Linked DNA regions of Homo sapiens: region 1 is linked to region 2. A link means that fine-mapping ties the variant in region 2 to the expression of a gene that starts in the linked region. Tissue or cell type: naive CD4 T cells. Region 2 holds a variant in brackets; the other region holds the start of a gene. All regions are shown on one strand. Distances are between the middles of the regions.

The links. PIP is the estimated chance that this variant, and not a neighbour inherited with it, causes the effect.
Region 1: NT5C3A starts here. The variant in region 2 is fine-mapped to the expression of NT5C3A in naive CD4 T cells (Schmiedel 2018, PIP 0.90).

What each region holds. Positions count from the first base shown.
Region 1 is chr7:33,058,749-33,074,252 of GRCh38, forward strand. NT5C3A (5'-nucleotidase, cytosolic IIIA) reads right to left here and starts at 4,028. Exons shown (of 9, transcript NM_001002010.5): 1 at 3,820-4,028. The coding sequence starts at 3,957. LOC124901610 (a long non-coding RNA gene) reads left to right here and starts at 4,437. Exons shown (of 4, transcript XR_007060279.1): 1 at 4,437-4,900; 2 at 5,281-5,399. RefSeq lists silencers at 3,663-3,722, 4,023-4,142 and an enhancer at 4,383-4,542.
Region 2 is chr7:33,023,961-33,039,891 of GRCh38, forward strand. NT5C3A (5'-nucleotidase, cytosolic IIIA) reads right to left here. Exons shown (of 9, transcript NM_001002010.5): 2 at 2,857-2,955; 3 at 79-148. It also overlaps the pseudogene RPS29P14. Among named protein-coding and RNA genes, the nearest start is that of NT5C3A, 31 kb to the right of the region's middle. The variant C/CAA (reference allele first, on the strand shown) is at 8,463.

The sequences.
Region 1 (15,504 bases), 35 kb after region 2:
TTTTCTCCTCCTCTTATCTTTAACCATTTGCTTTTCACTACTCCTCTGCCCACCAACATACTTCTGTGCCAACCATTCGAAAAACAAAACAAAATACCCATCCTCAGCACAACTACTTCCTCTGCCCAAAAGTCATTTTTTAGTTGTCTTCACATCATTGTTTTACCAACGGCGGCTCAACCCACTGCTACCATAGCCTTTCAGACCAACTTCTGATCTTGTCATCAACTTCTGACCTTAGAGAAGATGGACATAGCTAATTCTGCCCCTTCTTTTGGAAACATTTCCTGTTATTCCACCTCTGACAGCTTTCAGCATCTTTACTGAACTTGGCATTGCCAAGTTTTCTGTTTTCTTCTCGCTGTAAAACTATGGATGAGAAATAATATCCAGCTCCACACTGGCCATTGAGAGGCTAGACATTAGGGAAAATATTATTTCTAGCCTCAATTTATCTTTAGAGCTCCAGCCTTCCATTTTCAGTTGCTATTGCTAATAATAACAATAAGTAATGTATATATTGGTTACTCTGGGCCAGGCACTTTTCTAAGCACTTTAAATATATTAACTATTTCATGAACATTTCTAGTTGGTCATTCCTTGATCATCTCAAATTTCATATGACTTAAAGTGAACTTGTGATTCCACATTTCCCTTACCTCCTGGCTACTTTCCAAACCTGCCATTTTTTCCTTCTCTTCATCTTGGCTAATAATATAACCAGAATCAGCAGTTACCTGATAATCTTAAAGTTATTTCTCCTTACAATTAATCCCTTTATCTAATGATCACAAATAATAAGCTCTGAAAGAAAGCAATTATGTTCTAGGCACTGTGTTATCTCATTTAATCTTCACAACCTATGAAGTAGGTACTATCATTATCTCCCAATTAATAGATGAAAAATGGGAGATTCAGAGAGGTTAAGTAATTTGCCCAAGGTCACATGGCTTGATAAATGAGAAAAACTAGATTCAAAACTAGGTTTGTATGACTCTACAGTCTGTGCACAAAGTCCCGTTGATTTTATCTCGGAAATGTTTGTCTCCTGATCCCTTATTTCCATACCTGTTGCTAGTGCCATAGTTTAAGATCTCTAATCATCTTTCGCAAGCAATACTACCAACCTCCTAAATTTATTTCTTTCCAGGATCTTCCCTTCCAGTCCACCTTATCTCATCTTCATAAAACATACTGTTGGGTTTTTTGTTTCTCTGTTTTGAGACTCTGGGTGACTCTGTCACCCAAGCTTGAGTGCAATGGTGTGATCACGACTCACTGCAGCCTCGACCACCTTGACTGAAGAGATTTCACCTTCGGCCCCTAAGTAGGTGGGACTACACTACAAGTGTGTGCCACTGCACTGGCTAAAATCTTTATTTTCTGTAGAGAAAGGGTCTCCCTATGCCGCCCAGGCTGGTCTCGAACTCCTGGGCTCAAGGGATCCTCCCGCCTCAGCCTCCAAAAGTGCTGGGATTGCAGGCGTGAGCCACTGTACCCTGCCAAAGCAAACCTTTGATGATCCTTTGTTGCAAAATAAAGAGCAAACTCTTTATAATGGCTTTACAAAATTCCTTTACAATTCAGTTTCTTGATCCCATTCCGTATCTTGCTTTCCTTCTTTTTTTTTTTTTTTTTTTTTTTTTTGAGACAGGGTTCTCCCACCTCACCCTCCCAAAGTGCTGGGATTACAGGTGTGAGCCACCATGCCTAGCCATGACTGGCTTCTTCTGTACATTAATCTTGCTGCCCTATGGGATATTTCAGCTGTAGCATACACAACCCACTAGCAACTTCCTCATGTCTCTCAATTAAAAACTCTTGCAAGACAATGCATCATTTTGACCAAGTCCCAGAAGTTATTGGTTTTCTTAGCCAGTTAGATAGGCCCAACTTGGTTAGGTAGTTAACTCCGTTAGCTGTGACCAATATGAGCTATGTCTGTTGGACATCATGGGTTTGCAGAGATTTTTCTGAGGGAGGAGGGCAGAGGATGGGCAGAGCAGACCTACATTATTACAGAAAGATGGAACTAGGATTCCAACCCAGGTCTTCTGACCCCCAGTCAAATACTTCTTCCACTTGAAGAAGCAACCTATTAAAATTAAAAAAGTTAACATGAAGCTCTTTTCACTTTTTCCATTGAAAAGCTACTAGCAGGCTACACATATATTACAATCTGAATTAATATACTATGCATACATGTAAATATTGACTGATTTCTTTAGTACCAATAAGTTGGTATTCTAGATAGGTCTTCATTATTTGTCACAAAGATAGCAAACTGTTCCTATGATGGTATCATTGAAGGATTTTGTGAACACACTGATTTTTAACCTTACTTGGCTTAGATAAGTGGTATACAGACCAATCCATAGTTTAAGCACAGGCAGGGAGATATGGCAACTCGGTTTTTTCCCCTACATAGGCATTATTAACCTTGGGCAAAAGAAAGCCAAGTTTTCTAAGCAGGAAAGCAACAAAAGCAAAATGAAACTTCTGAGTTAAAACCATTTGCTGCTGTGGGCATACAGATGTGGGACAAATGAATTTTAATAAGCCTTTAGAATTATTAAGACCCTTTAAGAATAAATTAATTCAAAATTAGGGAATATTATTGGAATATGAGACAAGTGGGAATTAACTTTTTTTTTTAAGAGACAGGGTCTCGCTATGTTTCCCAGGCTGGAGTGCAGTAGCTATCCACAGGTGTGATTATAACCTTGAACTCCCAGACTCCAGTGATCTTCCTCTCAGCCTCCCAAATAGCTGGGACACTGGCTAATTTTAATTATGCAAATACATCTGTATTCAACCTGGGGTCAGTACAACCAATAGGACAAATCGTGTCTTTCGTCAGTTGGAACATATTGCAGGTGCTCAGAAATTCCAAGTATTACACCCTAAAATGATATTATTTAGTGTAGATTTTAAATTTTTTTCTATCATAAATCATCTGACCCTAGATGTTCACATGTATAGCACACGGTCAGGCGTATACCCAGGATTATGCATTTCAGGAAATACATAAGCGTGCAAGTTTGTGCAAGAATTGTCTTCCTGAGTGGGTTCTAATTAAAATACAAAACGAAACTAAATATCCTCATTTTTGAAACAATTACTTATAATGTATCTCAAAGGGAATTCTTGAGACACCCTCTTCAATAAAAAATTAAATTCGAAAATGTATACAAGAGCTTTGGGAGTTAAGATGAAAACAAAGATATTTCGTGGGAGTTTTGAGACAAGAAGGAATACATTCAAATACAAAATAAACTATCCTGAATTTCTCCTGGATTGCCATTCTTGTAAAATTTTAGATATTGCACATTTTCATAATCTAACTCACGGCAGCCCCAACATAAAACTAGTCCTCTGCGGGAATTGCAACTAGATTAGCGGCAACGGTTTGACGCGGATCCGGGGGGAGGGCGGGAGCAAGGCAGGGAGAGAAGGAGCCACCTGCCCAGGACATGCAGCTTATCTCTAGAGAAACGGGTTTTGCAGCACAAAGTAGCCTGTGTCCGATTCATCTATTTTCTGCCTTGTTCCTTCAAACGGAAACCTAACAAAGACCACGGGCAGCCAAGGGCCGCAGCCGGGGACCCAACCCTGGTCACCAAGCCCGCGGAGTGGCCGCACGCGGGGCGGCCGGGTCCCCCAAGCTGCGCGTCCCGAGCTAGCGAGATCCCAGCCTGACAGGCGACGCCGGCAGCTCCCCGTCGCGACCGAACAGCGGCCCAGCACAGGCTGCCGAGGCCAGCGGACGGCCCAGCCGGCCCCTCGCGTGCTCTGGGCGCGCCGAGCCTCCACACTCACCATCTCGATGATCTTGGTCTTCCGCCCCGTCTTCCTCTTCAAGGTGAATATGTACTGAGCCAGCACCACCCCCGCCACCAGGGCGCACACGCTGGCGCTCGCTACCGCGCCCACCCTCGCCACGGCCGCGCGGTCCATGGACGGGGCCCTCATGCGCGTCCAAGCAGGAAAAAAACAGGCAGCTCGCGTAGACTGCGAGTCTCGGAAGCGCGGGATCCCAGAGCATCACGGACGAGCCCGCGACGCCCCGCCCCGCGCAGCGACGCCCCGCCCCGCGCAGCTCCGCCCCCACGAAGCCCCACCCACACGCCATCGATGGGAGAGGCCAGGACGCGGCGGGAGGGGTGTGGCCTGTGCCCGGAGCCCAGGCTGGAGGCGGCCTTCAGCAGACTCAGGGTCTCACGAGCTGCTGTCAGGGCAGGGCAGAGTATTGCGGTAATTATCCTTCTCTGCTAATGAGGATTAGGCCGTGGTTCGCTCGAGCCCCGCCCCAGTAGAAATCTAATTCCAACTGCGGCCCGCTAAGAAGTCGGTCTCCGCCTTCGCGCCTCAGCCCCTCTGGACTCCGACCCCCAGAAGGCTGCGCGGCACGGTGTGACCTGCGCAGTGGCGTCCGTTCTAAGTGCTATAACAACAGGGGGAAGATGGCTCAGAGTTAGGCTGGAGAGGGGCGGTGTCCCTTCCGCCGCAGCCGCGGGGTTTCTGCTACATCCCATTCGCCACCTCCGCCATCCTTTTTTCTGTGTGAGCAGAAGGGCTTGCAGTTGTTCTCTCCTGCCTAGTGTCTTCCAAGGGATAGATGCCATTTCTTCTGCTGGTCTCTGGGGGTGAGGAGGGGCGCAGGGGAGCTTCTTGGGGGAATCGCTCCAACTCTGTGGAGCTGGTGGTGCTGCCTGGTGGGGCTCTCTCTGCCCAGGACGTGGAACAACTTTCAGCCGGAGGACTAGAGGAAATAGTTGTAGGGGAGGAAAAATTGTTTCCTTCTAGCCTTTTAGGTCATTTGGCTGGTCTACAAATTAAATTGATGTAAGACAGAGGAACATGAGAAAAACGATTTGTCGACCGAAAGGTGAAATAACAGGTACTAAAACTTAAAGAAATCATGGTTAGTTTTATTACTCGGCCAAGTTTGAGGACTTAAGCCTGGGAACACAGACTCAGTATAGACCGAGAACGTGTCCCAAAGTAAGTTAGCTGGGAGTATAACCTGAAGAAGACTGAGTTTTAATACCCAGAATATTTGAGTATCAATATCTAGACTACTGTGTCATTTTGTCGCCAAAGTAATTTTTTATGAATCCAGTTTTGCACCAAATACCAATATGACTTAAATGTTGTCTGATTGTGAGGCCTAAGATGGTCACAGTCTCATTTATCTTTCTTCCTCAACAAAAACATTTTCCATATATTACATATTATTTTGAATGGGTAGAGACTAAAGCCACGTTTCTATAATTTCAGGATTTTAAACATTTTGTAGACGATAACATTCGTCTTGAAGCTGTGGACAATCTAAAACAGAAATGGAGTTCCAAATTTTGTTTTTGTAATATGGCCCGTCAACTGCACATGGGAAGAATGTGGGTACTCTGAAATATGATTTCTATTTTAACTAGTTATACTATATCATAGGTCTGATTATCATCTATATGAGATGTTAAAGCTGTAGGAGTATAGTCAATTAGACTACAAACCCTGGTAGTAAATTTCCAGGAGGAAAGGGGTCCATATGTTTTTTATAAGTGTAAACCTTGTGTTTCTGAATCTAAGAGGGTTGGCCATGTTTGGAGACTATTTCAGCTTCTATGTGAATTAACATATTAATTATTCTTGTTGAAAGACATGGAAGATCTTGATATGGTTTGACCCTGTATCCTCACCCACATCTTATTTTGAATTATACTCCCATAATTCCCATGTGTTGTGGGAGGGACCTGGTGGGAGATAATTGAATCATTGGGGTGTTTTCTTCCATACTGTTTTCGTGGTAGTGACTTAAGTATCAGGAGATCTGATGGTTTTATCAGGGTTTTCGCTTTTGCGTCTTCCTCATTCTCTCTTTGTCTGCTCCCATCCATGTAAGATGGGACTTGCTCCCTGCCTTCCACTATGATTGTGAGGCTTCCCCAGCCACGTGGAACTGGAAGTCCAATTAAACCTCTTTCTTTTGTAAATTGCGCAGTCTGGGGTATGTCTTTATCAGCAGCCTGAAAACAGACTAGTACAGATCTCTACACGGAGAACTACAAAATACTGATGAAAGAAATCAGGCCAGGTGAGGTGGCTGGTGCCTGTAATCTCAGCACTTTGGAAGCCCAAGGTTGGGGGATTGCTTGAGGCCACAAGTTTGAGACCAGTCTCGGCAACATAGCGAGACCCTGTCTCTACAATCCCTGAAAAACCAAAGAAATTAGCTGGGCATGGTGCTGCGTTTCACTCTCGTCCGTGTGAAGAGACCACCAAACAGGCTTTGTGTGAGCAACAAGGCTGTTTATTTCACCTGGGTGCAGGCGGGATGAGTCCAAAAGAGAGTCAGTGAAGGGAGATAGGGGTGGGGCCGTTTTGTAATATTTGGGTAGGTAAAGGAAAATGTGTTAACAGTCAAAGGGGGGTTGTTCTCTGGCAGGCAGGGGTGGGGGTCGCAAGGTGCTCACTGGGGGAGCTTTTGAGCCAGGATGAGCCAGGAGAAGGAATTTCACAAGGTAATGTCATCAGTTAAGGCAGGGACCCACCATTTTTCACTTCTTTTGTGGTGGAATGTCATCAGTTAAGGCAGGAACAGGCCATTTTCACTTCTTTTGTGATTCTTCACTTGTTTCAGGCCATCTGGGCATATAACTTGCAGGTCACAGGGTATATGATGGCTTAGCTTGGGCTCAGAGGCCTGACACTGCATGCCTGTAGTCCCAACTACTCAGGAGGCTGAGGTGGGAGGATTGCTGGAGCCTAGCAGTTGGAGGCTGCAGTGAGCTATGATTATGGACTCCAGCCTTGGTGAAAAGGTCAGGAGATCGAGAACATCCTGGCTAACACGATGAAACCCCGTCACTACTAAAAATACAAAAAATTAGCTGGGCGTGGTGGCGGGCGCCTGTAGTCCCAGTTACTCGGGAGGCTGAGGCAGGAGAATGGCATGAACCCAGGAGGTGGAGCTTTCAGTGAGCCGAGATCATGCCACTGCACTCCAGCCTGGGCAACAGAGCAAGACTGTGTCTCAAAAAAAAAAAAAAAAAAAAAAAAAAAGTGAGACCCTGTCTCAAGAAAAAGGAAAAGAATGGAAGAAAGGGAAGGAAAGAAGGAAAGAAAAAAAGAAAGAAAGAATAGATGACACAAACAAATGGAAAAAACGCCTCATGCTCCAGGATTAGAAGAATTAATGTCATCAAAATGACCATACTGCCCAAAGCAATTCAAATTCAACAATACAGATTCAGCAAATACAGATTCAGGAATACATATTCAGCAAATACAGATTCAACACAATACCTGGCAAACTACCAATGTCATTCTTCATGGAATTAGAAAAAACAATCCTAAAATTCATGTGGAACCATAAAAGGGCCCAAATAGACAAAGCAATCCTAAACAAAAGGAGTAAAGCTGGAGGTATCACATTTTGACTTAAAATTATACTACAAAGCCATAGTAAACAAAACAGCATGGTACTGGTATAAAAATAGACATGACACATAGATCAATGGAACAAAATAGAGAAACTAGAAATAAATGCCCCATATTTGCAGCAAACTGATATTTGACAAAATATACACTGGCAAAAGGACACCCTATTCAATAAATTGTGCCGGGATAATTTTAGAGCCATATGCAGAAGAATGAACCTGGACCCCCGTCTCTCACCGTATACAAAAATTAACCAAGATGGATTTAAGACTTAAATGTAAGACCTGAAACTATAAAAATCCTAGAAGAAACCCTGGGAAAAACTCTTCCGGACATTGGCCTAGGCGAAGAACTTATGACTAAGTCCTCAAAAGGAAACAACAAAAATGAAAAACAAAAGTTGACAAATGGGACTTCATTAAGCTAAAAAGCTTCTGCAATGCAAAACAAATAATCAACAGACTAAACATACAGCCTATAGAATGGGAGAAAATATTTGCAAAGAATGCATGTGACAAAGGGTGACTATTCAAAATCTATAAGAAACTCAAACTACTCAACAAGAAAAACCATTAAAAAGTGACCATACTGCCCTTGACATGAAGGACAACATTTTTCAAAAGAAGACATACAAATGGCCCACAAGCATATGAAAAAATGCTCTACAACACTGGTCATCAGAGAAATGCAAATCAAAACCACAATATGATATCGTTTCACACCAGTCAGAATGGCTTTTAAAGTCAAAACACAACAGATGCTGGTGAGGCCATGGGGAAAGGAGAATGCTTAAACACTATTGGTGGGAATGTAAATTAATTCAGCCACTGTGGAAAGCAGTTTGGACATGTCTCAAATAACATAAAACAGAACTACAAGTCAACCCAGCAATCTAATTACTGGGTATATATTCAAAAGAAAAGAAATTATTCTGCCAAAAAGACACATGCATCACAGCACTATTCACAAGAGCAAAGACATCGAATCAACCTACGTGTCCATCAACAATGGATTGGATAAGGAAAATGTGGTACATGGACATGAGTCAATACTACACAGCCATAAAAAGAACAAAATCATGTCATATGCAGCAACATTAATGCAGCTGGAGGCCATTATCCTAAGCAAATTAATGCAGGAACAGGAAACCAAGTGCTGCATGTTCTCACTTATAAATGGGAGCTAAACATTGAGTACTCATGGACATAAAGATATATATATTATATATATTTTATATAATATAAATTATATAAAATATATAATTTATATATTATATAAGTATATATAAAATATATATTTTATATATAACATTATATTTGTATATATAATATACAATATCTTTTCAGGCAGCTGCCTAGCCTTTATTTTATATATTTTATATGTTATATAGTATATATTATATATAATATATAAATATGTGTTTTATATATTTATAATATGTAATATGTAATATATTTATATATATAATTTATAAGTATATAAAACACTTATATATAAATATATATATTTATATATATAGATGGAACTGCAGACCATTTTCTTTAGTGAAATAACTCAGAAACAAAATTAATTTTTTTTCTCACTGACAAGTGGGAGTCAAACAATGGGTGCACATAAACATACAGAGTGGAATAATAGACATTGGAGACTCCAAGTGGTGCAAGGGTAGGGGGGCAGGATAAAATACCACCTATTAGATACAATGTATATTATTCTGGTGATGGGTGCACTAAATGCCCACATTTTACCACTACTCAATATATCCATGTAACACAACTGCACTTGTACCCCTAAATCCATAAAAAAAAAAAAGAACTAAAAAAGTGAGTTTGGACACATGCTCTTTTTCACTATTGGACCTTAGCATTTTCCCCATAAATTGAGCAGTTTGATTTACCCGCTTTAAAAATAGCATCATTATCTTTTCAGGCAGCTGCCTAGCCTTTATTTTTTTCCTGGAAGAGTACTTCCTTTAGCTTAAATTTAGGTCAGTAAGTATTGATTTTTTTTGAAAATGCCTTTTTTCATTATATGCACTCTTGACTTGCCCTAACACCCCCAATCCTGCACCTGTTGCCCCTAAGGATCTCTACCTTACTTGGCCAGTGTTGCCATATCCACCAAACATGTTGTTGCCACTGGGCATTTATGGCAGAGGTGCAGTTTGAGTATAAGTTATGGACCCAAAAATGTTGAGTGTTCCAAATCAACATGAGGTGAATGGTAGCTACTCCTAAATAGAGCTTAGTCTGAGTGTGTCATAAGACTTCCCATATTTTTTCTGAGTGAGTCCTAAATTACCATCTAGTGGGATCCTAGTCCATTAAGTGATTCCTACTGTGTGATTTTAGGTTACATTATACTGTTTTTTTTCCAACCACAAAAGCAAGGTTTCTGTCCCCTCAGTCAAGAGATACTGTGACAGGGCACACAGGTTGCTGCTGTCTTTTCTTATACCTGGGGACCTTGCACAGTAACTGATACCTATATTTATAGAAACACAATGATCCATTTGTCAAGTATTAAAAATAGACCAACGAGATCTAGAATTGGGAAGGACTTTCTGGATGTTCCTTTCTACATGGGAACCTAGATAGTACATTATACTATTTCAGATAGTATATTATATCTGAAAAGAAAGTACCATAAGCTGTAGGAACATTGGATTGGTTCCAAGCGGTTGACATTAGAATACCAATGTCATTTTGATATGGAAATATTGGAAAATAAGAGTCTGTCCCATATTTATGTTCATCAAATTAGTTATTTTCCAATGTATGGTGAGGGTATTGAATAAAGGAAGGTGTTTTGTGGGGAGCAGATATGTGCAAACCTACCCCAAAGTCCACAGAAGCTGAGAGGCTGAAGACAGAGGCTGACAAATCCAGTTATAAACAGAAGCCACGTCTGTGTCTTCAGTGGCAGTAAGACAAGATGGTGGATGCCCATTACCATGACCCCTCAGACCCAAGGCTTATATACCAGTGGGAAGGGGTGGTTTAGAAGGAATGTGTAGGACAATTGACATATAATAATATCAAGTTTGTTTGACTTTAGGGCAGTATTTATGGTAAGTACTTGCTTTTACACAATGAACGATAGATAAACTGGAAATCTTAGATGCCTTCTCAGAACAAAGAATATCAGAAGCCAACATGGTGTATTAGCTTTTTTTTTTTTGAGACGGAGCCTCGCCCTGTCACCCAGCCTGGAGTGCGATGGCACAATCTTGGCTCACTGTAAACTCTGCCTCCCAAGTTCAAGCAATTCTCCTGCCTCAGCCTCCCAAGTAGCTGGGATTACAGGTGTGCACCACCATGGCCAGCTAATTTTTGTATTTTTTTTAGTACAGACAGGGTTTCACCATGCTGGCCAGGCTGGTCTCGAACTCCTGACCTCAGGTGATCCACCTGCCTCGGCCTCCCAAAGTGTTGGGATTATAGGCGTGAACCACCGTGCCCGGCCAGATTAACTTTTAAGATGGAGTTGCTTTGTCCTCCACAGAGGGGTTGTCATTAAATATTTAGACAGTATAAAAGGAAAGCATGAGAGTAGAAGTCATATACAGAGGAAATTATTGTTTTATTTTGTTTTTTGATGAGGTCTTGCTATGTGGCGTAGACTGGTCTTGAACTCCTAGGTTCAAGCGATCCCCCCAAGTATCTGGGATTACAGGTATGCACCACCATGCCCAGCTATAGAATAAATTTATTGTATGGGACTGGTCTAGTATCTTGAGATACACTGTGTACCCTGTTGTTGTCTTTGTCTTGTCTTTGGAGGAGCCAGGAGTCTTTCAAAATTTTAACTGAAGATCTCCAGAGGGCTTAGAAATCCATTTAGGAGTTGGGGCTTTTTTAAAATGAGAGATGTGAACCCAAGAGTCAAATCCTTCAAGTTTAGCTGCACAATGATTAGTCAACAGTATCTAATAAGGTTCCTTCCAGTGAGGCTTAAGAGAGTCCTTTAGCTGATGTCTTTCCCAATAAATGTAGTCACCCAATTGGAGGTCATGACATTTGATGTCTTCATCTCCCAGTAGTGTGCTGTAAAATAAATAATAAACTGTTCCATGCATCTTGACTGCTCCAGCTCCAGCCATGTCTCAAAGGGGACCAGGTACAGGCTGCTACTTCAGAGGGGACAAGCGTGGCAGCTTGGCAGCTTGCATGTGGTGTTAAGCCTGTCAGTGCACACAGTGCAAGGGTTGAGTCTTGGGAGCCTCTGCCTAGATTTCAGAGGATATATGGAAAAGCCTGGATGTCCAGGCATAAGCCTGCTGCAGGGGCGGAGCCCTCATGGAGAACCTCTACTTAAGGGTAGTATGGAGAGGAAATGTAGGGTTAGAGCCCTCACACAGAGTCCCCACTGGGGCACTGCCTAGTGGAACTGTGAGAATAGGGTCACCATCCTCCAGACCCTGGAATGGTAGGGCTGCCAACAGCTTGCACTATGCACCTGGAAAAGCTGCAGGCACTGAATGCCAGGCCATGAGAGTAGCTATAGGGGCTGAACCCTGCAAAGTCAAAGGGGCGGAGCTGTCCAAGGCTTTGGCAGCCCACCCTTTGCCCCAGCATCCCCTGGATGTGAGCCATCAAGTCAAAGGAGCTTATTTCAGAGCTTTAAGATTTAATGACTGCCCTACTGGGTTTTGGACTTGCATGGGGCCTGTAGCCCCTTTCTTTTGGCCAATTTCCCCCTTTTGGAACGAGAGTATTTACCCAATGCCTGTACCCCATTGTATCTTGGAAGTAACTAACTCGTTTTTGATTTTACAGGCTCATAAATAGAAGGGACTTGCCTTATCTCAGACTAGACTTCGGACTTTCGAGATAATGCTGGAATAAGTTAAAACTTCGGGAGACTCTTGAAAAGGAATTATTTTATTTTGCAACATGAGAAGGACATGAGATTTGGAGGGGCCCGGGGTGCAATAATATGGTTTGGACCTGTGTTCCCACCAAATCTCATGTTGAATTGTAATTCTCAGTGTTGGAGGTGGGGCCTGGTGGAAGATGATTGATCATGGGGTTAGAGTTCTCATGAATAGGCTAGCACCATCCCCTATTCTTGTGACAGTGAGTGAGTTATTGTGAGATCTGGTTGTTTAAAAGTGTGTAGCATGTCCCCTGCCTCCCCCACCCCGACCCCACACCACCCCTGCTCCTTCTCTGGCCATGTGAAGTGCTGCTCCCTCTTTGCCTTCTGCCATGATTGTAAGTTTCCTGAGGCCTCCCCAGAAGCAGAAGCTTCTATGTTTGCTGTACAGCCTGCAGAACCCAAAGCCAATTAAACCTCTTTTCTTTATAAATTACCCAGTCTCAGTATTTCTTTATAACAGTCTGAGAATGGACTATTACAGACATTTTCTTATAATTTGCATTGTGGCTCTTTTGCTTGGGAATGTTTCAACCCAGTGGGAGAACATGCAAATCATAACCCACATGAATTTATATCCCTGAACAGGAGATAATTGAACGAAATGTGTTTGTCAAATATCAAAGGGTCCAGCAGAAAGGGAGAAGTGCCTCTGTGACTCACAGAGGGGCTAGATTATGTTTATTTAGCATAAACCTTATAAGCTATTGTGGGTGAAGGTTTTCAGTAGTATTGTTTTTCTCATGCAATCATTTTTTTTTTTTAGGTCTCCAGTGTATAAGCTCATAGATGTGTTGTAACATAGGAAATTGAAATCCCATAGGCAAATGGGTTTGTCATTGAGTCCATACCATAGGTTACAAGTGGTAGCGGGGAATATTTGCCTTTTGTTAACCATATTTCTTTTCTCTCTCTCTTTTCTTTCATTCTTTTCTTTCTTTTTTTGAGACATGGTATCATTCTGTCTACCAGGTTGGAGTACAGTGCCACAATCATGGCTCACTGCAGCCACAACCTCCTGGGCCCAATCAATCCTCCTGCCTCAGCCTCCTGAGTAACTGGGGACTGCAGGTACCTGCCAACATGCCTGGCTAATTTTTGTATTTTTTTTTTTGTAGAGACAGGGTTTCACCATGTTGCCTAGACTGGTCTCAAATTCCTCGGCTCAGGTGATCCTCCTGCCTCAGCCTCCCAAAGTGTTGGGATTACAGGCATGAGCCACCACACTCAGCCTGCTAATCATATTTCTTTTTCCTTTTCTGAGGCTCTTTCTTGAGCATCCTGACATTCCCTTTTAATTGGGTTCCATTTAAGCATGGCTATTTCTATGATTTCATCTCATACTGGTAATAGGGCAGCTGTCTTTGCTGCTACATCAGTAAAATGGCTTCCCTTACTTTCCAGAGACTCAGTTTTTGAATATCTAGGGATCTTATAGCCAAATTTATTTTTGTAATTGAATGGCTTCTATAAGTTTAGAGACGTGAGAGCCATGTTTTGTAGGGTGTCTAGAGGAAGTCAGATGACCTTGTTATTTCTGTAACATTCCGAAGTCATGAGCTACACCAAAAGCATAGTGACTGTCAGTGTAAATTTTAGCTGTCTGATCTTTGGCCAACTGGCAAGTTCTAGTGAGCTCTATTAATTCAGCCAGCTGAGGTGATATCACCATAAGGAAAGGCTTACTTTTTGTAATGTCCACAAAAGACACAACAGCATAGCCTGCTCAATATTTTCCAATATTTATCCTTTAGATATGATCTATCACCAAATAACATCAGCATTCTCTAGTGTTTTTTTGTTTTGTTTTGTTTTGTTTTGTTTTAACAAATCCTGTCTGGCCATCAAGAGCTATACTGTTAGTGATATATAATCACAGGGCATCTCATCAGTCACTTTAGGCAGCAGGGAAGTGAGCTTAAGAGCATTATAATGAAGATTGTATTATGTGAGGGAGAGAGTAAAAGTATCTCATAAGACACCAGCTGGCCAGGCACGGTTGCTTACTCCTATAATCCCAGCATTTTGGGAGGCTGAGGCGGGAGGATGGCTTGAGCCCAGGAGTTTGAGACCAGCCTGGGCAACATAGCGAGACCTCCAACTCTACAGAAAAATTAAAAAATTAGCTGGTTGTGTGGTGGCATGTCTGTTATCCCAGCTACTCAGGGGTGCTGAGATGGGAGGATTGCTTGAGCCCAGGAGATTGAGGCTGCAGTGAGCTATGATCATGCCACTGCACTCTATCCTGGTGACAGTGTGGGACCCTGTCTCAACAAAACAAAAGAAGCCAACCTGCTAATAGAAAAAGGTTAAGTGCAATGCAAATTTAGAAGAGCTTCAGCAGAAGGAGGTACATACGTAGTGGAACTTTCATTACAATTTCCTGAGTAGCCTTGAGAAGTGCAACTATGGCTGAGATGGCTCTTAAACAAGGGGGTAATCCACATGCTACAGAAGCTAGTTGTTGGCAGTAATAGCTGATACGTCTATGTTGTCCCCGTGTTTTGGGGCCAGAATGCGTAAGGTGATTCCATGACTTCCATGGACAAAGTGGAAAAATGGTTACTAGTAATTTGGATGTCTTCAATCAGGGGCTTTTATAAAACTATCCTTTAACTCCTAGTTAGCTGTTTGTCCTTCTGTGGTTTAATGTATGAGATCTGGATGATCCTCTTTTACTAATGTATATAAACAGGCCAGGCATGGTGGCTCATGCCTGTAATCCTAACACTTTGAGAAACGAAGACGGCAGCATTGATTGAGGCCAGGAGTTTGGGACCAGCTTGGGCAACATAGCAAGACTTCATCTCTACAAAAAATAAAAGAATTAGCTGGGTTGTGGTGGCATGCACCTGTAGTCCTAGTTACTTGGGAGGCTGAGGCAGGAGGATTGCTTGAGCCCAGGAGGTTGAGGCTGCAGTGAGCTATGATTGTGCCACAGTACTCTAATCCGGGTGACAGGGTGAGACTTTGTCTCTAAAAACATAAAAAATAAAAGAGTGTTAAAAATAATAAATATATAGTTTGTGCCATGAGGGAAAAGTTAGGAATCTAGCTGTGACAGTAACCAGCTAATCTCAGTAGGTGCAGTGGCTCACGACTATAATCCTAGCACTTTGGGAGGCTGAGGCTGGCAAATCACCTGAGGTCGGGAGTTTGAGACCAGCCTGACCAACATGGAGAAAC
Region 2 (15,931 bases):
TCTCACAGGTAATATAAAGAGGATCTTAAAATAATGATGACATGCTTTTGTGAATTTGTTTACAAATATCACACTTACTATGACATGTTGGGCATCTTTTCCCTTTATATGAAAATCTACTGAGTGTCATATCAAAGTCCGTTATTATCTGTAAGAAAAGAGTGAAATGCATTATTGTAAACATAGCCCACATGGCCAGAATTTCTCTGTGCTACCCAAACACATACTTCATGCTTTCCTAGATGCATAGGACTGTGCTCAAGTCTCTGGTCCACACTGTTAACTTATTCTCTTTACATTGAATTTTCTCATGCGGTTCCTTTATAAAGTCCTGGGAATAATCTTAACTACAAGGTGCTACCTTGAGTGCCCTAGTGTTTTCACCAAATAAATCTGATTCGTAATTCAGCCATAAAAAACAAAGAGATGCTGTCATCTGCAGCAACATGGGCGAGCCTGGAGGTCATTATCTTAAGTGAAATAAGACAGGCACAGAAAGACAAATATTATATGTTCTTACTCATATGTGAAAACTTAAAAAGTTGATCTCATGGAAACAGAGAGTAGAAAGACGGTTACCAGAGGCTGGGAAGGGTGGGAGGGTTGGTGAGATAAAGAACAGCTGGTTAATGGTTATGAAAATACTGTTAGAAGGAATAAGTTCTAGTGTTTACACAGTGGAATGACTATAGTAAACAGTATTTTATTGTATATTTCAAAACAGCTAGAAGAAAAGATTTAGAATGTTCCCAAAACAAAGAATAAATATTAGAAGTGGCAGATATCCTAATTACCCTGATTTGATTATTGCACATTTTATATACATTTGAAAATATCACATGTACCGCATATATATATACAGTTATTATGTATCGACTTTAAAAATTGAAAAAATCCAGCCAGGCACGGTGGCTCATGCCTGGAATCCCAGCACTTTGGGAGGCCGAGGTGGGGAGATCACTCGAGGTCAGGAGTTTGAGATCAGCCTGGCCAAGATGGTAAAACCTTGTCTCTACTAAAAATACAAAAATAGCCAGGTGTGGTGGCATGTGCCTGTAATCCCAGCTACTCAGGAAGCTGAGGCAGGAGAATCACTTGAACCTGGGAGGCGCAGGTTGCAGTGAGCTAAGATCATGCCACTACACTCCAACCTGGGCGACAGAATAAGACTCCATCTCGAAAAAATAAAACAAAATTAAATAAATAAAAATAAATAAAAATTTGAAAAAATCTGATTAATTGGTATGGGAATTTGCAATTGCAGGTGATATGGCTACTCTTCTCACTAGAGATTTTCGACCAACTTGGTCAATGCACAAAAATGCAGTGGAAGCAATTCAACTATATGAAGCTCTTAGTTACTGATACCATTACATGCTGGATTTAACTTGCTTATTTAAACTATACCAATGAATGAATGCACATTGAAATAGCTGGCCAGCTCTTGAAACTTAGGAGACTGGGTTAAATATTATTTTTCAGAAATGTTTTAAAAAAGGAATAATTTTTTTTTTTACAGAATATCCAGATTGTTGATTTAATTTACATGTAACACATTCCTTTAAAACAGAGACAACTTTTTAAAAACTCAATTATCCCCTTAATAAGGCTGTATCTTAATCTGAACTACTATGATTAAAACATGAAAGAGCAGCATAAAACTAAACACTTTTAAATATTATCCTTAAAATGGTTTAATGCTTGTACACAGCATGAGTTAGCTTCTTACTTAAGACTAATAAAAACTTAAGAGTATTTCAGGATTATTAACTTTTGTTTTTCCAATAGGGTATTCTGTCTGTTTTAGAACAACTCAAGATATATATTTTCTGGATTTTATATTCCTAAAGGATAGGCAAAAACTGTCTACCTAAACTTGCTGTACTCAGATTTTATCAAACAGGAGATGAATGAGTCGGCTTTAACATTAAAAATAAAATAAGGCTGGGCCATGATGGCTCACGCCTGTAATCCCAGCACTTTGGGAGGCCGAGGTGGATGGATCACTTGAGGCCAGGAGTTTGAGACCAGCCTGGCCAACATGGCGAAACCCTGTCTCTACTAAAAATATAAAAATTAGCTGGGTGTGGTGGCAGGCACCTGTAATCCCAGCTGCTCTGGAAGCTGAGGAGGGAAAACTGCTTGAACCGGGAAGCAGAGGTTGCAGTGAGCTGAGATCGTGCCACTGCACTCCAGCCTGAGCAACAGAGTAATACTCAGTCTCAAAAAACAAAAAAATTAGCTGGTTGTGGTGGCTGGCACCTGTAATCCCAGCTGCTCGGGGAGGCGGAGGTACGAAAATCGCCTGAACCCAGGAGGAGCAGGTTGCAGTGAGCCAGGATTGCGCCACTGCACTCCAGGCTGGGCAACAGAGCGAGACTCCATCTCAAAAGAAAAAAAAAAAAAAAAAAAAGAAGCCTTTATTATTAAGCTTTTATTTTTGGAGTGCAGTGGCATGATCTCAACTCATTGCAAACTCCGCCTCCCGGGGTTAAGTGATTAGCCTGCCTCAGCCTCCCAAGTAGCTGGGATTACAGGCATGCGCCACCAGGCCCGGCTAATTTTTGTATTTTTTAGTAGAGACAGAGTTTCACCATGTTGGCCAGGCTGGTCTCGAACTCCTGACCTCAGCCTTGTCCACCCGCCTCGGCCTCCCAAAGTGCTAGGATTACAGGTGTGAGCCACTATGCCCGGCCATTTTTTTTTTTTTTTAAATAGAGATGGGGTCTCACTATGTTGCCCAGGCTGGTCTCGAACTCCTGGGCTCAAGTGATCCTCCTGCTTCAGTCTCCCAAAGTGCTGGAATTACAGGCATGAGCCAACACACACAGCCAAGGCTTCTTGATAATTATTCACCTGAAGTTTGGCAGCTCCTCCTTTGATAAGACCACAGATAATTTCTTCTACTCTTGTAGGGTTCTTGATTCGAACTGAACTTTTCTGGAATTCTGGCATCTAAAAGTAAAAGAAAATTAATTAATTAGTTTTCATTCTTCTTTCCCCAGGTTCCTTTGATACCAAGCAGAAACCTGTCTTATTTAAAGACATAAAAATATTAAGGCATTATTTTTAAAAAGCAAGCCACCACATCAAATTACCGTTTATTTATTTTGTTATTACTTTTTTAGAGATGAGGTCTTGTTTTGTCACCCCGGCTGGAGTGCAGTGGCACAATCCTAGCTCACCGTAGCCTCAAACTCCTGGGCTCAAATGATCCTCCCATCTCAGCCTCCTGAGTAGGTAGAAGGCATGCGCCATCATACCCAGCTAATTTTTAAAATTTTCTGTAGAAGTGAGTGAGGTCTTGCTTTGTTGCTCAGGCTGATCTTGAACTCCTGGCCTCAAGCAATCCTCCCATCTTGGCCTTCCAAAGTCCTGGGATTAAAAGTGTGGGACACCAAGCCCAGCTCCCACATTACCATTTATACACACAAAAATACTTAAAACTTATCAGTATTTTCCAGCTACAGAGTAAGATAAAACTACATTTGTGATTCAATTGCTTTATCAGAAAGTATATATCTTTTTCTAAGTATAAAAGCAATGCACGCTTACCACAGAAATAACAGTAAAAATATAAAAAAGACAATAAAAACTGCCTGGAGTTCAACTACGTGAAGATAAACAAGTAACATTTAAATTTATTTTCTATTAGTTTCATTTCTGTGATTTTCTATTAGTTTCATTTCTGGGTTGTGATGCAATCCAGAGAGCCCAGAAATCATATTTTAACCATGAATACCCCAGCAGCTACCCCTCGATTGATTAATTTTTCTAAAAATCTTAAGATGACTCCCGTTAAGCCTCCATTTTATATAATACAGTAACTAAACTTCCACCCTAATACTAATATAATACCTTCAGCATATCCCTCTGAAACATGCATATATACGCATATAGTTTTAGCTCATCCTCATTATATACTTTTGCATCTGGCTTTTATGAATTAATACATACATTTAGCTTGCCTACATATTTATATTTTAAAATGTTCCTGAGCAGAAAGGAAGCAATTATCACAATTATTCCCCCAAAAGTTTGTCTTTGTATAATTAAAATACATTTAAAATATTTTAAATTTGAAAAGCTGCTTCAAGATCTTTGCTCTTTTTATTGTACTATTTTCCAAATAATATACTGTTCTTGGCACACATTTTACAATAGATTTATTTCAAATGGAGATAACTGCCAAAAAGTATTGTGCCAGGCACAGTGGCACATGCCTGTAATCCCAGCTACTTGGAAGCTGACGATCACTGGAGCCCAGGAGTTTGAGACCAGCCTGGGCAACACAGCAAGACCCATCTTAAAAAATGGGTGTAGGCTGCTACTACAGAGTTATGAAGACTTTAGGGTTGCTCAACAATTTAATCTTAAGTATTATTTCTTGTTACTAGCTATTTTATCACAAATAGAATGAAACTGATTAGAGGAAAAATCAGTACAAGCTCTCATAGCACATGTACAATACAACTAGAAGGAGAAAATTATGCCTCATTTTATAGTCAGTTATACAGCATAGGCAATAATAGTACCTCAAATCCAAGTTCTATACTGGTTTGTACTGGATAATCTTTATTTATATGTTTTTATTCTGGGTATGTTATTAGTAATATTAACATAGTTCATGTGTGTCATGGACATGGTTACAAAAATTCCCTGGACCTTCTATCTTTGCTACAAGAGAATCTCACCACGTAAATCTATCAGATGCCGTGTTGTTCCTACATAATGGGCAAGAGTAGAAAAATCAGAAAAAGGATGGACTGTCTTCCAAAGACTGGAAGATGATAACGAAAGTGTAGAGGAAAGAGGCCGGGCACAGTGGCTCACGCCTGTAATCCCAGCACTTCAGGAGGTCGAGGTGGGCAGATCACGAGGTCAGGAGATCGAGACCATCCTGGCTAACATGGTGAAATACTGTCTCTACTGAAAACATAAAAAATTAGCTGGGCGTGGTGGCGGGTGCCTGTAGTCCCAGCTAGTTGGGAGGCTGAGGCAGGAGAATGGCGTAAACCCGGGAGGCAGAGCTTGAAAAAAAAAAGAAAGTGTAGAGAAAAGACAAATGCTAACATTAAAATTTTCTCCATGGATGAAAGATCTACCACCTACAATATATTTAATTTTAAAAAGCCATATTTAAGTAGGATGACCTGCAATGCAACTAACCTTGATGTAGTAATCCTTTTAACTCAACTGGATGAGTTTCAATGGCTTAAAGGTTATCTATGTATTTTATAGTGATTTTTCAATAGATGGAAAGGCAGATAGGCACTGGTTCCTATTTTTTTTTTTCATACATTAACCCATTCACTCGCCTAACCAATATTTACCATGTGTCTACTTTGTGCCACACACTCTTGCTAAATGCTAGGGATATGATGATGAGTAGTATTTACTCTGCTTTTCTGCTGAGTTTTAGGGACCACTGCTGTTTTGGAATATCACTTCTGTAACTCCCTTACAAATACCTCAGCTAGTAAGTTTATCTCTTGACAACTAATTTCTGTTCTTACCTCAGCCTTAACTGGCAGATGCACAGCAATCAGCATATGTTTGATTCAATAACCAATCCATTATGGTGAAAGCAACACAGGATATATATCATAGACTATTTTTTCACCAAAAAAATTAAATATTTGATTTCAGTGTACCCAAGATGTCTTACCTCAGGCAAATCACAGCTTCAAGTTTTTGATAACGGATAGGAGAATCACACCAAGACCACTTCGAAGAAGGCTGGTTTCTGCTACACTAACAAATGTAAGATTGGTTTATTTTATTTTTATAGAGATAAGGTCTTGCTGTGTTTCCCAGGCTGGTCTCAAACTCCTGGGCTCAAGTGATCTCCCCGCTTCAGCCTCCCAAAGTGCTGGGATTACAGGTGTAAGCCACCATGCCCAGCCAATACTGGTTTACTTTAAATCACAATGGATGAAAGAGAACCAGTAGCTAAAGGCATTGGTGGCTCCTGTGCAACATACAACCATTCATTTTCATTGTGTATTCATAAGTAGTGAATACACAAATGGCACGGGAGTAAAATAATGATGAAATAGGTATAAGAAATATAAAAATGACCATTCTATCTGTCTTGGGTTATATAGTATACTATACTCCTCTCCTGCAATACACAATTAATGTCACTGATCTATATGAGAAATACTTCACAAGAACTTGAGATATGGGGTATTTTACTCAAATACTTTACAATATAGCCTAAGAAAGAGAATCAAAGACTCCTGTATGGAATATGTCAAAGAGTATCATAATATAAGCACACTGTAGAAGTATGATGAAATACATCACATACTTTTTGTTGTGGTGGTTGTTGTTGAACATGCCCCAACTGTTGCATGAGATCACATACTTTTGTTACCTCCACAAAGTCCTTCTGTCTATATCCCTCTTATAAAAACACAGACTTGGTTTGGTGGCATATAAATAATGATACTTCAAATTTGAAGGGCAAGGTATTTTGAATTGTCTGAAAAATTTTCAATTTGATTATGATAAAATTTTATGAAAAATAAATAAGAAGCTAAAAATTTCCATCATTTGTGATAAAAAGAGAACAAATTCATTTTATGGTAAAGCCGCAGCGTAAAATGTTGGGGAGGGAGCAATGCCTTCCTGAAAAGAATCAGGGTATGTTGGTTGATTGATGCCAATCTGAATCAACACCAAAAATGATTAAGAAAGACCTAAAATTCACTTATTTTGACCAATACTTAATATATTTATAGAGATGAAATGGATTTCAAAGTTATGCCATTTTATCCACAACTCAATTGTTTAATATTAGATTTGATATGATCTTGTGGATACACTGGGATAAGATAAAAATGTGAAGCTCTGGCCAGGCGTGGTGGCTCAGGCCTGTAATCCCAGCACTTTGGGAGGCTGAGGCGGGCGGATCACGAGGTCAGGAGATCGAGACCATCCTGGCTAACACGGTGAAACCCTGTCTCTACTAAAAATACAAAAAATTAGCCAGGCGAGGTGGCGGGCGCCTGTAGGCCCAGCTACTCTGGAGGCTGAGGCAGGAGAATGGCATGAACCCCGGGGGGCGGAGCCTGCAGTGAGCCGAGATCGCGCCACTGCACTCCAGCCTGGGCGACAGCGAGACTCTGCCTCAAAAAAAAACAAAAAAAAAAAAAAAGAGAGAAGCTCCATAGTACAGTTACCAAATTTCTGGGTGTGGCTTGGTATCATCAATCCAATGATAATATTCCAGACTAGGGATAATCCTAATTTCCAGGATGAGATTATGACAACTTCAAAGTTTAATTCTGTTTGAACTAGATTTCAAATTATATTAAATTTTGATTAAAAAAGAAAACACGGCCGGGCATGGTGGCTCATGCCTGTAATCCCAGCACTTTAGGAGGCCGAGGCAGGAGGATCACTTGGGCTCAGCAGCTCGAGACCAGGCTGGGCAACGTGGCAAAACCCTGTCTCTACAAACAATACAAAAATTAGCCGGGCATGGTGGTGCACATCTGTAGTCCCAGATACTCGGAGGCTAAGGTGGGAGGATTGCCTGAGCCTGGGAGGCAGAGGTTGCAGTGAGCTGACATCATGCCACTGCACTCCAGCCTGGGTGACACAGTGAGACCCTGTCTCAAAAAAAAAATAAATAAATAAAAAGATTTTGTATTAAAAAACACACATAAATACATTATATTTAAAATAATGAATTATTATTCTTAAACTAAAAATAAAAAACAAAATAAACTAAGGGTTATACAATCCACAATGTACAGAGAAAACAATTCATATTTTAACCAAGACTAAAAAAATTACTTGTACTTTTAATTTATAAATATGTATGTTCATCTATATGAGTTTCATTTATTTATTATTTTTAAAATTTATTTTTGGCCGGGCACGGTGGCTGACGCCTGGAATCCCAGCACTTAGGGAGGCCAAGGCCAGTGGATCACCTAAGGTCAGGAGTTCAAGACCAGCCTGGCCAACATAGTGAAACCCTGTCTCTATTAAAAATACAAAAATTAGCTGGGCATGGTAGCACATGCCTGTAATCCCAGCTACTCTGGAGGGTGAGACAGGAGAATCGCTTGAACCCGGGAGGCAGAGGTTGCAGTGAGCCGAGATGGCACCACTACACTCTAGCCCAAGTGACAGAGCGAGACTCTGTCTCAAAAACAAACAAAAAAAGGCCAGGCACAGTGGCTCATGCCTCTAATACCAGCACTTTGGGAGGCCAAGGCAGGCAGATCACCAGAGGTCGGGAGTTCGAGATCAGCCTGGGTAACATGGTGAAACCCCATCTCTACTAAATATACAAAATTAGCTGGGCATGGTGGCATACACCTGTAACCCTGTTACTTGGGAGGCTGAGGCAAGAGAATTGCTTGAACCCAGGAGGCGGAGGTTGCAGTGAGCCAGGATTTCGCCACTGCACTCCAAGCCTGGGTGACAGAGTGAGACTCGGTCTC[C/CAA]AAAAAAAAAAAAAAAAAAATTTACTTTTATGTTTTTTTATTTTTATTTTTTGAGGCAGGGTCTTGCTCTGTCACCCAGGCTGGAGGGCAGTGGCGTGATCTTGGCTCACTGCAACTTTCCCTCCTGGGCTCAGGTGATCCCCCCACCTCAGACTCTCAAGTAACTGGGACTACAGGGGCTCACCACCACCCTCGGCTAATTTTTGCATTTTTTTGTAGAAACAGGGTTTTGTAGTGTTGCCCAGGCTGGTCTTGAACTCCTGGACTCAAGCAATCTGCCTGCCTCAGCATCCCAAAGTGTTGGGATTACAGGCATCAGCCACTGCACCTGACCTATTTTAAAATTTTTGAGACAAGGTCTCACTCTGTCACCCAGGATGGAGTGCAGTAGCGTGATCACAGCTCACTGCAGACTTGACCTCCTGGGCTCAATAGATCCTCCCACCTTAGCCTCCAGAGTAGCTGGGACTACAGCCATCTGCCACTATGCCCAGGTATTTTTTTAATTTTTGTAGAGACGGGTCTCACTATGTTGCCCAGGCTGGTCTCAAACTCCTGAGCTCAAGCGATCCTCTTGCCTTGGCCTCCCAAAATGCTGGGATTACAGGCATGAGCCACAGTGCCCAGCCTCAGTGAATTTTAAATCACCTTAGTATTATCCTACATTTTTCTGGAAATAGCCCACATAAAAATTAGTTTGAATCACTTAAGAAATTCCAGTCAGATGTTCTCAGAGAAATATTCTTTCTTGGTTTTCCATTGTTTATATTTGGTAGCAACAAAAGACTTCATTACTGCAGTGGTACAAAGAAGTAGGCACTAGAGTTTTTATCCAGCTACACAGAAAGTATAGATTTAAAGCCACCTATTCAAACTGGTACATTTACCCCCACACATAGATGATTCTCAGATTTATTTGGAAGATTATGCACTACTAAATTTTAGTAATAGCGATTTCCCTTGCTTATTACATATTTGGTCTGTTTCTACATTAAGATAGTGTAGGCCAAATTCTTTCATTCCTTCACCACATATTAAGTATAAGACAGTGTGTGAAGCCGCTCTGTAAGAGATATATAAAATATAAATCTTACACTCAAGGTGCATATTCTCTAATGTGGATTAAAAAATAGAAACCCAAATAATTAATACATTGCCAAGATGTCCAGATAAAATGTAAAAGGAATAGAAGAAACAAAGATTTCTTCTTCTGGGGTCAAAGGAGGAAGAGCCAACAGAGGTAGGCTCTGGAAGAGAAACAGGATTTAGATATGCTGAGATTAGGGAGGAATCAAAGTGCAGGGTCTAATATGGGAAAAAGAGAAATAGCTCTGTTTGTATAGAACTTGAGTGTACACAGAGAAGTGTGCATGTAAAAAGTCTGGACAGAGAGATCTGAATCCTGTTCATGAGAAGTAAAGAATAACATGCTATAAAGTTGTCAATATAAAAGACATATATATATATATATAATTTTTTTTTTTTTTGAGAGGGAGTCTCGCATTGTCGCCCAGATTGGAGTGCAGTGGCGCCTCTCAGCTCACTGCAAGCTCCGCCTCCTGGGTTCATGCCATTCTCCTGCCTCAGCCTCCCGAGTAGCTGGGACTACAGGTGCCCGCCACCACGCCTGGATAATTTTTTTGTATTTTTAGTAGGGACGGGGTTTCACCATGTTAGCCAGGATGGTCTCGATCTCCTGACCTCATGATCTGCCCACCTCGGCCTCTCAAAGTGCTGGGATTACAGGCGTGAGCCACCGCGCCCGGCCAGACCTATCAATATTTTTAGGAAAGCAAACCCAAGGTAAAAATTGTGTAAATTAATGCAATAATAGTTAAAAAAAATCTTTTGGCTTGTTTTCCTTCAACAGTCTGAATAACTGTGGAGTGAATACACTGCTACTTGCCTCCACAAACACCTTCTAGAGGGCTCTAGGACCCAAGTAACAACATTATACAAAGAGGATTAACATTGTTTATATGTCAGGGAATTCCTATACTGCTTGTGTTCACGTAAGTTAAAAAAAAAGTCAACCCAAACAAGAAAATAAGTTTTAGACTGGTTTAATTCTATGTATCAAAGAGATATGCTCAATTCCAATGAATCAAGTGCCAATCCTTCAATGGATAGAAAGAGCTGTTATTAGGTTGAACCATATAAAACTGGCAATACTGGACTATATTTGACATATAAAAACAATTTCATACGCTTCAACCTAAGAGCAATAACTAAACTGACGATGACTTAATCACCATTTTGAGTCAACTTTCACCTTTGATCCTACACTGGTTGGGGGAAAGATGAACAAGAGATTTATTAAGCGTGACAAAATGCTGTGTCACGCTCTAGTTTATAGGCCAGAAAAAAGCTAGAGAGAAAGAGAAAGCTGAAAAAATAAATGGAACAGAAGAGGAGGCACAACAATAATAAGAACACAAAGAGAAAACAAGAGATCATGAGGCAGTTGTTCTCTTTAAAAGAAAGGATTATTTTTAATTGTTGTTTTTAAGATTTTATCACTGTGAATATGGAGAACAGATGTAATTTCTTTCCACACATGCAAATAAATATGCCAGTTACACAGTTAAAACACTCACTAACGTAATAGAGTAGATCAATATTTAATGAATGCTTAATCTGGGGTTACTAGGAACTTGACGTTTTCACTGAGTATGAATAATAACACATAGTTGGCGGTTTCACACCCATTTCTTAAAGGTAAGATTACTGCTCTCATTCAGGGCTATAGAAGCTAATAAGGAATGAGTTTTTTTTTTTTTTTTTTTTTTGAGACGGAATCTCGCTCTGTCGCCCAGGCTGGAGTGCAGTGGCGCAATCTTGGCTCACTGCAACCTTCGCCTCCTGGGTTCAAGCCATCCTCCTGCCTCAGCCTCCAGAGCAGCTGGGACTACAGGAGCTTGTTACCATGCCCGGCTAATTTTTTGTATTTTTAGTAGAGATGGGGTTTCACTGTATTAGCCAGGATGGTCTCGATCTCCTGACCTGGTGATCCGCCCGCCTCGGCCTCCCAAAGTGCTGGGATTACAGGCACCCGGCCGGAATGAGTTAAGATACGAAGCCAGTTCTGACTCCAAAGCCTGTACATTTCCTATCTCATCCTAGTATATATAATGCAACTCTATTGTCATGCAAGTAAGTATTTTAAAAATTTCTGAATGCTTGTCATTTAAATTTGGAAACCTACAATAATGTATTTCACACTGTACGATTTAAGTGTGTTATTGCTGAGCAAAGAAAATTTAGCGTAAAAAGGAATGGGGAAACATTTTATATTCTGAGAAGCACGACAATGTGCATTAGATTTCAAGCAAAAACATTTTAAAGATAATTTGAAATTCAATTCAATAAGTATTTGAGGTTTATTTTGTGATGCACTGTGAAGAAAGAGTTGTATAAAATTTCAGTCCCATAATTATCTGGTTAGAGACAGAGGTAAAAGTGGTGAAGATTTACCATTAATAAATGGAACTGGAAATAGGCAAATACCCACCATTTTCACATGTACGGCAGACTCTTGATTAGTCATTTCTTGGTTATCCAATCTTCTGGATTTTCCCAGGTGATGTCACAGCAAAAGAGAAAAAAAAAAGTACACGTGACATACATAAATTTCAGGTTCTTCCTGTTATGCCAATAATATATTAAGGTGGAATTTTTGGTATGACTTATTTATTTTGTTTTTTAAAAATGTTTATTTTATGTACAAAGAACTAACATGGTTTCTTTCATTGGGTGGATGCCTTGGATAATCCATTCAAGGAAGATCACTTAGTCCAACTCAATGAAACCTATGTCCTTTGCATACTGATGGAAACACCGGCGGCACATATTGAGGCCGTGTTTCCAGATCAGACTATGCTGGTTTGGGCAGATGTGACAAGAGTGAGAACCCTGGCCCAGCTTCCGTGGGTGGCTCCAGTAGGGCTGCTGGTGACCCATCTTGCTTTCGGGAGTGCAATGAGGCAAAAGGCTTTGCTATGATTTAACATAGCCTATATTTGACACATAAAGCATCTTTTTTTTTTTTCTAAGAAGCTCAGCAAGGGTTTTACTCTATCCAGCATAGTTTTAGATTAACCATTTTGTATGGAGAATCTGAAGCTCTCCTGTAAGAACTTATATGGTATTAAGAAAATTGAATAAACAGTGAAAATGAAGTACATATTTGCAAAGAGCACTTTATTGCAAGAATATTTTATCAACACTTTCTCTACATGTAAGGATGAAGTTTGTGGGAAAATTATGCATTGCTACTACCGAATCAATATAGGAATATACAGACAGAACAAAGTAAGGGAAGACATAACACAAAAGTCCATTTTTTCCTTCAATTTTCTTACATTAAAATTTTATTTTTATTTTTTTATTTTTTATTTTTATTTTTTTTGAGATGCAGTCTTGCTCTGTTGCCAGGCTGGAGTGCAGTGGCATGATCTCAGCTCACTGCAACCTCTGATTCCCGGGTTCAAGTGATTCTCCTGCCTCAGCCTCCCAAGTAGCTGGGATTACAGGCGCATGCCGCCACGCCTGGTTAATTTTTGTATTTTTAGTAGAGATGGGGTTTCACCATGTTGGCCAGGATGGCCTCGATCTCCTGACCTCGTGATCCACCCGCCTCTGCCTCCCAAAGTGCTGGGATTACAGGCATGAGCCACTGCGCCCGGCCTAAAATCTTTAATTTTTTAATATGATATGACTAAGACATGAGCTGTATTTGAATCGAGCATTGTGTCTAGCACAAAATAGGTATGTGAGAGTGTTTATCAACTGAATGAACCTTTTAGGGTCTGGGTGAAGTTTAAATATATCTGTTCATCAAACAAAAGGAACCAGTTTTTAAAACATCTCTCATCATTATTCTAAGATTTTTGGTTGTTGCTGTGTTGGTAGTATAAATCTTAGGGAAAATTACTAAGCTATGTTTGTTCCATAATGACTTTACTTTTACTTTATTTCAGATAAGTAAAATTTTATAATTAAAGCACTATTTAAAAATGGCAACTTAGTTGAAAGCGAGAACATATCTGACTTTTTCTTAAACTCTAGTAATATAAGTTGGACATTAGATCTGTGTTCTTTATAATTAAAAGGTGTTATAGCAGATATATCAAATTTTCTCAAATTCTAAAATTCGGTCCCTACTCCCTTCCATTTTAAGTCCATGAAATTACAAAATGTCTTTTTCTCCCTCTCTCAGAAAGCCTGCTAGTAAGTTGATAGTCTCATAATTGACGGCATCTTAGAATTGAGTAAACACGATTTCCAAACAGTAAGATGATAACTTGCAATTTTTCACATCTGAAAAAGAATGTATCTGCAGTATGAGTGTGTGTATATATATCGATATAAAGATGTGTATGTGTATATATCTTTGTACAGCTATATATATACACACATACACTATATAACTCATAAAACATTTGATCACCACCCTCAAAATATAATGGTAGTTTGGGGATTAGTAGTCTTTAGCTTAGATGATTATAGTCAAGTTTAAGTAGACTTTCCTTGGTCTAACTTTTTTCTGTCACAGTCATCCAGATTTTTAACAAACAAGATATTATAGAAGCTGCATGCAAGTCTATTTCTTCATTCATAGCAATCAAAGCCTAATTATTAAATGCTTACAGCTTTTCTTTGATGTTTAATATGTGAAAAGCAGTCTAGATTTCTCAAAGAGCACTATTTAAATAAAACTATCTCATTAGCTTGAAAAAAAGGAATAGTGTGGAGACTGTGGAAAAGTACTGTAGAGTTTACAAAAATACCGCATAATCTGTGAAACATTTGAAAAGCCCAAGGGCAAACAATTCACACAGTGAAGAATTAAACACATTTTAATATCTAGGAATCTAAGATCTTTTTGTTACACATTCAGGTAGTAGAAATCCTCTTTATTCTCTACCTCTGAAGTATGGCTCTTTTTGGAACATACATTTTGAGTTTAAAGGGGAAAAAAGTCAGTATAAGTTGGTAAAAGAATGATCATCTTTCTCATGGTCTCATCAAATAAAAACAAAGAGTGATAAGAAATTTGATGGCCAACTTTAGGACCTTTTTTTTTTTTTTGGTAAGTATACCAACAATTCATGAATACTATGCAAATTTCAACTAAAGATCTTTCATTCTTGCCAGTCCTCACTAGCAATCTGACCAGAATTTATCTTTGTTCAAAGATAATCTCACATAAAGTGATACTGCAGTCCTTATACAAAAATTACTCTAAGGTCTTATCATTTAAAAAGTGTAAAGACTCAGGTGTAAAATGTCAGCATTCTGGCACTATTCTAAGGAAGACACTGAAAATTAGGGCAGAGTATTTTTAAACCAATAGGCTTGTAAACCTATACCTGGTATATAAAGTTCTGGCTTACTTTGCCAATGGTCATCTGTTGCAGATGCTTCAAGAGAAGAGTTGCTGGAAAAAACACATCAAGTGTAGAAGACGTGTTCAAAAATAGAAAATACTGCCCTTGATCTACGAACTCTCTTCAAAGGAAGTTTTAACATTTTAAGTCTTCAGAGTCTTTAAATGTGAACTGGAAAATGTGGAAACTGGAAAATAATTACTTTGTGTGCTTTTTGTATGAGATTAAGGTCTCTACTATAGCAGAGTTCTTTACAAGGAATATGTAGGACAAGTCTAAAGACTGAAGCAAGAGGTAAGAACTTCACTTAACACAAACTTGATAACTGAAAACTTTAGTTATCACAGTATTTCATTCTGATGATAGTTTACAAGTCAATTAATGAAAATTGATTGGTATGTCTACATGAAAAAAAATTACCTGATTTAAAGCAAGTCTTAAAGTACCTGAATGCAAACTGATTACTTTTAAAGGTCTACTTGACTCTGTCTTACAGGAAAGTGAAAAAGATTAAATTCATGAATATAGCTTTAAAAACTGTGACTGCTTTAATTGTGATACTCGCAGAAACATGTAAACTACATTGATAAGGTAATAAAATTGTGAATGCTAAACTGTGTATTACTCACATAAGAAAAGGCATATATTACCATAATATGGACACAGTATCCGCAACAGTACCAAACATCAATTTTTCCTATACTTTTTCAGTAACCTGTACTATTTGACTTTCTTAAGCTTGGGTTTTTTGTTTTTTTTTTTTTTTAATGTTACTGTCTTCGGGTGATTAGCACATGCAAAATCAAACTGTAACTTCATCTTTTCTGTATGGCTGTAATAATTTGGTGGGGCATTTAAATAATTCTTCCTAATTAGATTTTCAACTCAGCGGTGGGGAAAAAGAAACACACACGCTGCAAAGTGAAACTTTCTCAATACAGGCATAAAACAAAAATGAAACTAAATAGCAAAGAGTGGGAGGGGTAGAAGAGATATAGGAGGAAAGAGGAAAAAACAGATTTCAAAAGCTAGTTATTTAAAAATGGGCAATTTTAACCAATTTTCCCAAATGGTAAAGCA